Regions from separate parts of the Homo sapiens genome. Here region 2 is linked to region 1. The links come from fine-mapping of genetic effects on gene expression. A gene starts in region 1. The other region holds a variant in brackets. All regions are shown on one strand. Distances are from middle to middle. Region 1 holds the start of QTRT2 (queuine tRNA-ribosyltransferase accessory subunit 2). Region 2 has its middle 55 kb from the start of QTRT2.

Region 1 (2,916 bases):
ACCAAAAAAAAGAAATAGAAAACACAAAATAAGATGGTAGAATTCCAAATGTCAGTAATCACAATAAAAGTTAAATTAATTTCACATATAGAAAGACAATAATAGCAACTAACATTTATCGGGTATTTACTATGTATTAAGCACTGTTCTTTATATATTCACTCCATTAATCCTCAGATCAAATGCATAATATAGATACCATTATTATCTGCATTTTATGTATGATAAACTGAGGCTGATAAAATCCCCAGCTGGTAAGTGGCAGAGCAAGGACTTTAATTATTGAAGTCTAGTTTTCAGCGCTGTACTCTAATAGGCTGGGAGCTTATTAGAAGTTCCATCTGGTACACAAGCACATTATAATCTTAGTTTCCATTTTGCTATAGTGTTCTTCTTCTTTTCCCTTTCTCCCTCCCGCCTCTAATCCATCCTCCCAGTCTCTGCAATCTTTCTCCATTCTCATACAAATATTTAAACATACTTGCATATGGGAGGGAGTGTTTTGGTCAGGGTTTGCTTTTACAAAAATGGAAACATATTATACTATAATATATGCACTTCTCTGCAATTTGCTTTTCTCTCAAGAATAAACATTAGACGTCTTTCCTGAAGAAGAGACATAAAGCTAACTTACCCTTTTGAAAAAAACTACTTCGTGGTACTGCATAGTTTGTATGAGCACAATTTATTCAACCGCCTTTCAGACAGACCAGTTACAGAGCTGGTCCTAGGATCGCTGCAACAGTCCGAGGGCATAGCTTCCCTAACTTCATTTTCACCAATTTCAAATCAACTTTAGTTTACATTTCCTGGCAGAATGCTTCACATACATTTATTTTTAATCATTACAACACTCCAGTGATTCAGGTATTATCGTCCCCATTTTGCATGAGAAAACAGGGTCTCTGAGTTATTAAACAAGTTGCCTAGGGTCATATAGCCACAAAGTAGTTGAATTCAAAACTCCTGTTCTAAATCTTTACTCTGCTTTATAAGCCCATTTATCACCCCTAAATGGGCTGTCTCTGGAAACACCTCGGCTAAGCCAATAAGCCTGGATTTATCTTTGCTCCATGGGCCATCTCCATGGCCCCAGACCTCCCTAGGCACCTGGCTCAGAGATTGAAGACGGTCCCACCCTCCCATGGGCAGTTCGGAATAAAAACTTCCTGAAAACTCTACCTTTCAGCAGAGGCTAGTCGAAAGGGGCCCTTTTATCTCAGAGGTGTCGGCGACGCTCACACGATTTATGAGAATCTGAACTTACAGAAACCAATCCACCAGGACACCCTGAAAAGGGAAGCAGAGGAGACATGGCGGGAGTACAATCACCGTTACTGCAACACAACCAGGAAGCGTCTGGACGCGACGTGACTCATCCATCTCTAGCAGCTCCCACACCAGCAGGGCAAAGGGGCACTTACCTGCCAACAAACCATTCGACTCTTTCAGTCTTCAGACCCCTCAAACTCCTCACAGTTCACTACCACGTGTTGCAAAATTCTCTGCCCCAAAATCACTGCCTCCAGTGCAGAGCCAATCAGGGAGTACTGCGTCATCACTGGGCGCCAGAAAAAAAGCAAAGCCGACATTCAAGCGAGCCTTGATGACGGCAAGAGCGAGGGACCTCTGCCGTTGCTATGGTAACTGAGCCAACGCGAGCGGCCTGCGCAGAGCCTCGTGGGAGTGGTGGTTCGACGGTGTCCTATGCCTGCTTTCCTTGCGGGCGGAGGAACTACAATTCCCAGCGTGACCCGGAGGCAGCCCGGGCAGAAGGGCGGTTGCTGCAGCTTTGGCCGAGGTTCGGGCTCGAACTTGGAAAATGCTCCTGGCGCCTCAGGGAAGGTCCTTCTCAAAGAAAAGGATGGGGCTGAATCGCTGGAAACGGTTCACAAGGAAGCCGAGTCCCAAGGTGATCCCAATCGAGAGCTTTGGAGGGCGGGGACTTTCCCAAGGCGCGGCGCAGTCAGGAAGCCAGTCGCGGCCCGTCTGTGCTTCCTGCCTCTTCATCCTGAGCTGACACGCCCCTGCCTTGACCGCCCCAAAGCCAGCATTACCCTGAGTGAAATGCTCTAGGAGCTCTGGGGTCTGGGCACATTACGGCTTTGGTGGGCAGCATCGTGGAAGAACTGTTTGTAACGCTTTTCTAAAACCGGAGGTGTCTGCTAATGCCCATCGGGGTGAAAGGAGTTTGCAAACTCCGTTCCCCCTACCTTAAATTTTAGGAAACTTCTCGCACATTTCTTTCTTTTTCTCTCTCTTTTTTTTTTTTTGCAAATCTTGGGGTAATTGATCTTTATTAACGGGAGAGAGCTTCACATTAAATACCCTGCCTATATTCCTGCCCCTTCACTTTTACGTAAAGTATCTAAATAAACTCAGGAGTGCAAATGGATATTGAATACATTAATACTTGATTCACATAGTAATTTCTAAATTCAACCAACTTTCAAAAAATAGATTCTCTCCGTATCTATCACCCATTTGGATGCATTAGCACCTGAAGATAAGAAAAAAATAATAACCCCATTTTAAACTTGAAACATATGTGACATGTGCAAAGTCACAGTTGCACCGTGTGCTTTCCACAGACTACCTTTTTAACAGTCCCCAAAAAGATGCTTAAAATCTAAATGAGAGTACTAAAATGGAGAAGCTTCTCAGCTTTCAGCTACAGAGCAGTTTCACCAGCTGTTTTCACCCTTAAGTTATACTTTCCTAAATAATATTCTGTAGATGTATGTGGCCTTTTTGAGGGCCCCAGGCGATTGTTCTTGCGATTTATTCTAAATTTACCAGCTAAATGCATTGGACATATTCCACATGACAAATATGTTGCCCTAGATACTAGAGGGCACAGACTGAAGCATCAGGGAGACTTGGAAACTGAGGCTGCTGCTATTTCAATACATCAGT
Region 2 (2,916 bases), 55 kb before region 1:
GCCTCAGCCTCCTGAGTAGCTGGGATTACAGGTGGGTGCCACCACGCCTGGCTAATTTTTGTATTCTTTAGTAGAGACAGGGTTTCACTATGTTAGCCAGGCTGGTCTCGAACTCCTGGCCTCAAGATGATCCCCCCGGCCTCAGCCTCCTAAAGTGCTGAGATTACAGGCATGAGCCACCGTGCCTGGTCTTGAACTTTGGATGTAGATTTTTGGAACCAATGCTGGATCTTGTATTCATCATCTATTCGACTTGTTGGTTTTATCCTAGCATTCCAGCCTGCTTAGTCACTGAATTTTAATTACAATAGCTACTGTCTTAGACTTCCCTTGAGATTTGAATTATCTCCAAATGGAAGAATATATTAAAGGGAATGTTGTCATGTTATTGAAAAAACACTGAGGCCTAAATCCTAAGGGTCAGAGTCAGTGTCATACGCTATTTGTAGGACTTGCACAGAATATCACATACTCTTTCAGCTAAATATATCGTTGTATCAGTTAGAATATGTCTTTGCCCCAAATATCAGAAAACCCTGACTCAGATTTTCTTCAACAATGAGGTTTATTTTACTCACTCATGAAGAAGTCTATATGAAGTATGAGCTTCAGACTGGCAGATTCAGTGGCTTAGCAGAGTCATCATGGATTCAAGCTCTTTCCATCTCCCGTCTGCTAACTCCAGAGGTTTGCTTTGCTCTCGAGCTGGCTCCCCACCCTTCACCTCCATAAGTAATGATGGAGCCATTCTAGGAGTCATATCTGTCACAACAATGCTCAGTAACTGCAGAACCACTCTTCTCCTCATGTAATTTCTTTGCCCAATACTCCCAAAACTCCCCCTTTTATCTTATTAACCAGGTTTAAATCACAGCAGCAATCCATCCTAGCAAGGTGAATGGAATACCATGATTGGCTTAGTCTTGAATTAATCATTTGCAGTGGAATAGATGTCAATGCTTGTTTATTGCTCTCTAGTTGATAGAATCTATTCTGTTCCCCTTTGTGAAAAGTTTTCAGCCTTCAGGCACCTCTCCCATTTGCTGTAATTCCCAACAGATTATCGCTTTTCTTTGGATGTAGCCATGTTATTCGTTTGTCCTAAAATACCAGACCCCAGGCCAGGTGCGGTGGCTCACACCTGTAATCCCAACACTTTGGGAGGCTGAGACGGGTGGATTGCTTGAGGTCAGGAGTTCGAGACCAGCCTGGCCAACATGGTGAAACCCCATCTTTACTAAAAATACAAAAATTAGCCAGGCGCAGTGGTATGTGTGTATAGTCCCAGCTACTCAGGAGGCTGAGGCAGGAGAATCACTTGAACCCGAGAGGCAGAGGTTGCAGTAAGCCAAGATTGCACCCTGCACTCCAGTCTGGGTGACAGAGCAAGACTGTCTCAAAACAAACAAACAAAGAAAAAATTGAAGGTTGTATATCCTTACGTCTCTTTCCTTTGGCTCCTTAATCTGAAAGTTGGCTGTCATTTTCACCATGTGCCCTAGGGAGCCAAGCTGAGTTTCATCTTCT[G/A]TTTCCATGGGAAATTCACTCACACAAAGCAATTAACAAGTTTTAGAAGAATTACACAAGATTTGAGCAGAGCAGGGAAGGGGGGTGTGGTAGATCACTGTCTTCCTGGTTTTGTTGCTCCTATACTTGCTTTTCACCATCTTTCTCTCAAATGTGGCCAGGGAGCTCCTAAGTCTTCTCCTATCTTTGAGGCTGAGACTCTGGGGATCTCTGTCCCTTTCCCTAGTGGGATAATATCAGTGTGCTCCTTCTGCGCAAATACAGTCTCTCTCTAAGAGAAATGTCAGTTACAACTACTTTTTGCACCTAGGAGAAGACAGAAGCAAAATGAACACTAAAAAAAAGTAAGCACTGCTGAACTTCTGTTGACATTACACAACCTTACTTCCTCAAAGAGCAGGTTGCTCCATGTTTGTGCTTCTCTTTACTCTAAGTAATGCAGCCTTTAGCGCTTTTTTGTAAAGCTCAGCTTTAGCCTCCTTTATTCTGTTCTTGAAGGTTCATGATAGTCTTTTGTGTTCAAGCTTATCTATAATCCCCTCCCTTTGCTTTCTGTTCATGTCCTTTTCAAAGCCTGAGCTCTGCAGAGAGCTCCCTGTATAACCACCTCCTTCTTTAGCTGTCTCCCCCTTTATCACTGGAATTATTTCCTATTATATTATAATCAGGATTTTATTGTTTAAATCTCCCACCTCTCCCAAGTCATGTTCTTTTAAAGTCTCACATTGCAGAATCACACCTGTGGTAACTACTCTTTTGAAGTGAAGAGTTAATTTGTGATGCAAATAATTACTTCTTTATCTCATTTTCAAAGAGGAATTTTCATAAACTAGGAGCAAATTGTTTCACACCTTTTCCTCCTTTGTCACTTACTCTCCTTCCCCCTTCACTTTCCTTCTGTCCTTTTCCCCTCTGCTTGTTTCCTGCCTCCTTCCAGAATTGGTGTAAACCCCCTGGGTTTCTCTCCCAGGCTCTGCTTTTGTTGAACTGAAATACTTTCTGTTCATGTATTGGAGTGAACCTTTATCATACCAGGCATACTCACCCACCCGCTGCCTCAAGGAAATCTGGTGAGTGAAGGCAAGTGAAGAAAGCACTTTCATAGGGAATTGCCTGTGTCCGTAACCCCTGGCAGCCGGGCTTTTCCGTTTCCTAACTGTCCTGCTTCTATCGCCTTCAATTAAAGTCTACCTTTTTCAGCTGACAAACTCTAAGGAGTAAATGTCTCTATGCCTCTGCTTCCTCAGGAGTAAAATGAGGGCAATTCTCTCTGTCCTGTCTACTTCACAGAACTATTGGGGAAAAAATTAATGTGCAAAGAAATATACATTGGAAAGCATGATTCATATGTAAAAGGATATTCACTGTGTATGCTTAATCATAGGTATG

The links. PIP is the estimated chance that this variant, and not a neighbour inherited with it, causes the effect.
Region 2: its variant is fine-mapped to the expression of QTRT2 in whole blood (TOPMed, PIP 0.96).

The regions. Positions count from the first base shown.
Region 1 is chr3:114,055,373-114,058,288 of GRCh38, reverse strand. It overlaps QTRT2 (queuine tRNA-ribosyltransferase accessory subunit 2), which reads right to left and starts at 1,552. Exons shown (of 10, transcript NM_024638.4): 1 at 1,425-1,552; 2 at 1,183-1,290. It overlaps CCDC191 (coiled-coil domain containing 191), which reads left to right and starts at 1,763. Exons shown (of 17, transcript NM_020817.2): 1 at 1,763-1,912. The coding sequence starts at 1,823. RefSeq lists an enhancer at 1,612-2,021.
Region 2 is chr3:114,110,284-114,113,199 of GRCh38, reverse strand. No RefSeq gene overlaps it. Among named protein-coding and RNA genes, the nearest start is that of QTRT2, 55 kb to the right of the region's middle. RefSeq lists an enhancer at 1,780-2,281. The variant G/A (reference allele first, on the strand shown) is at 1,528.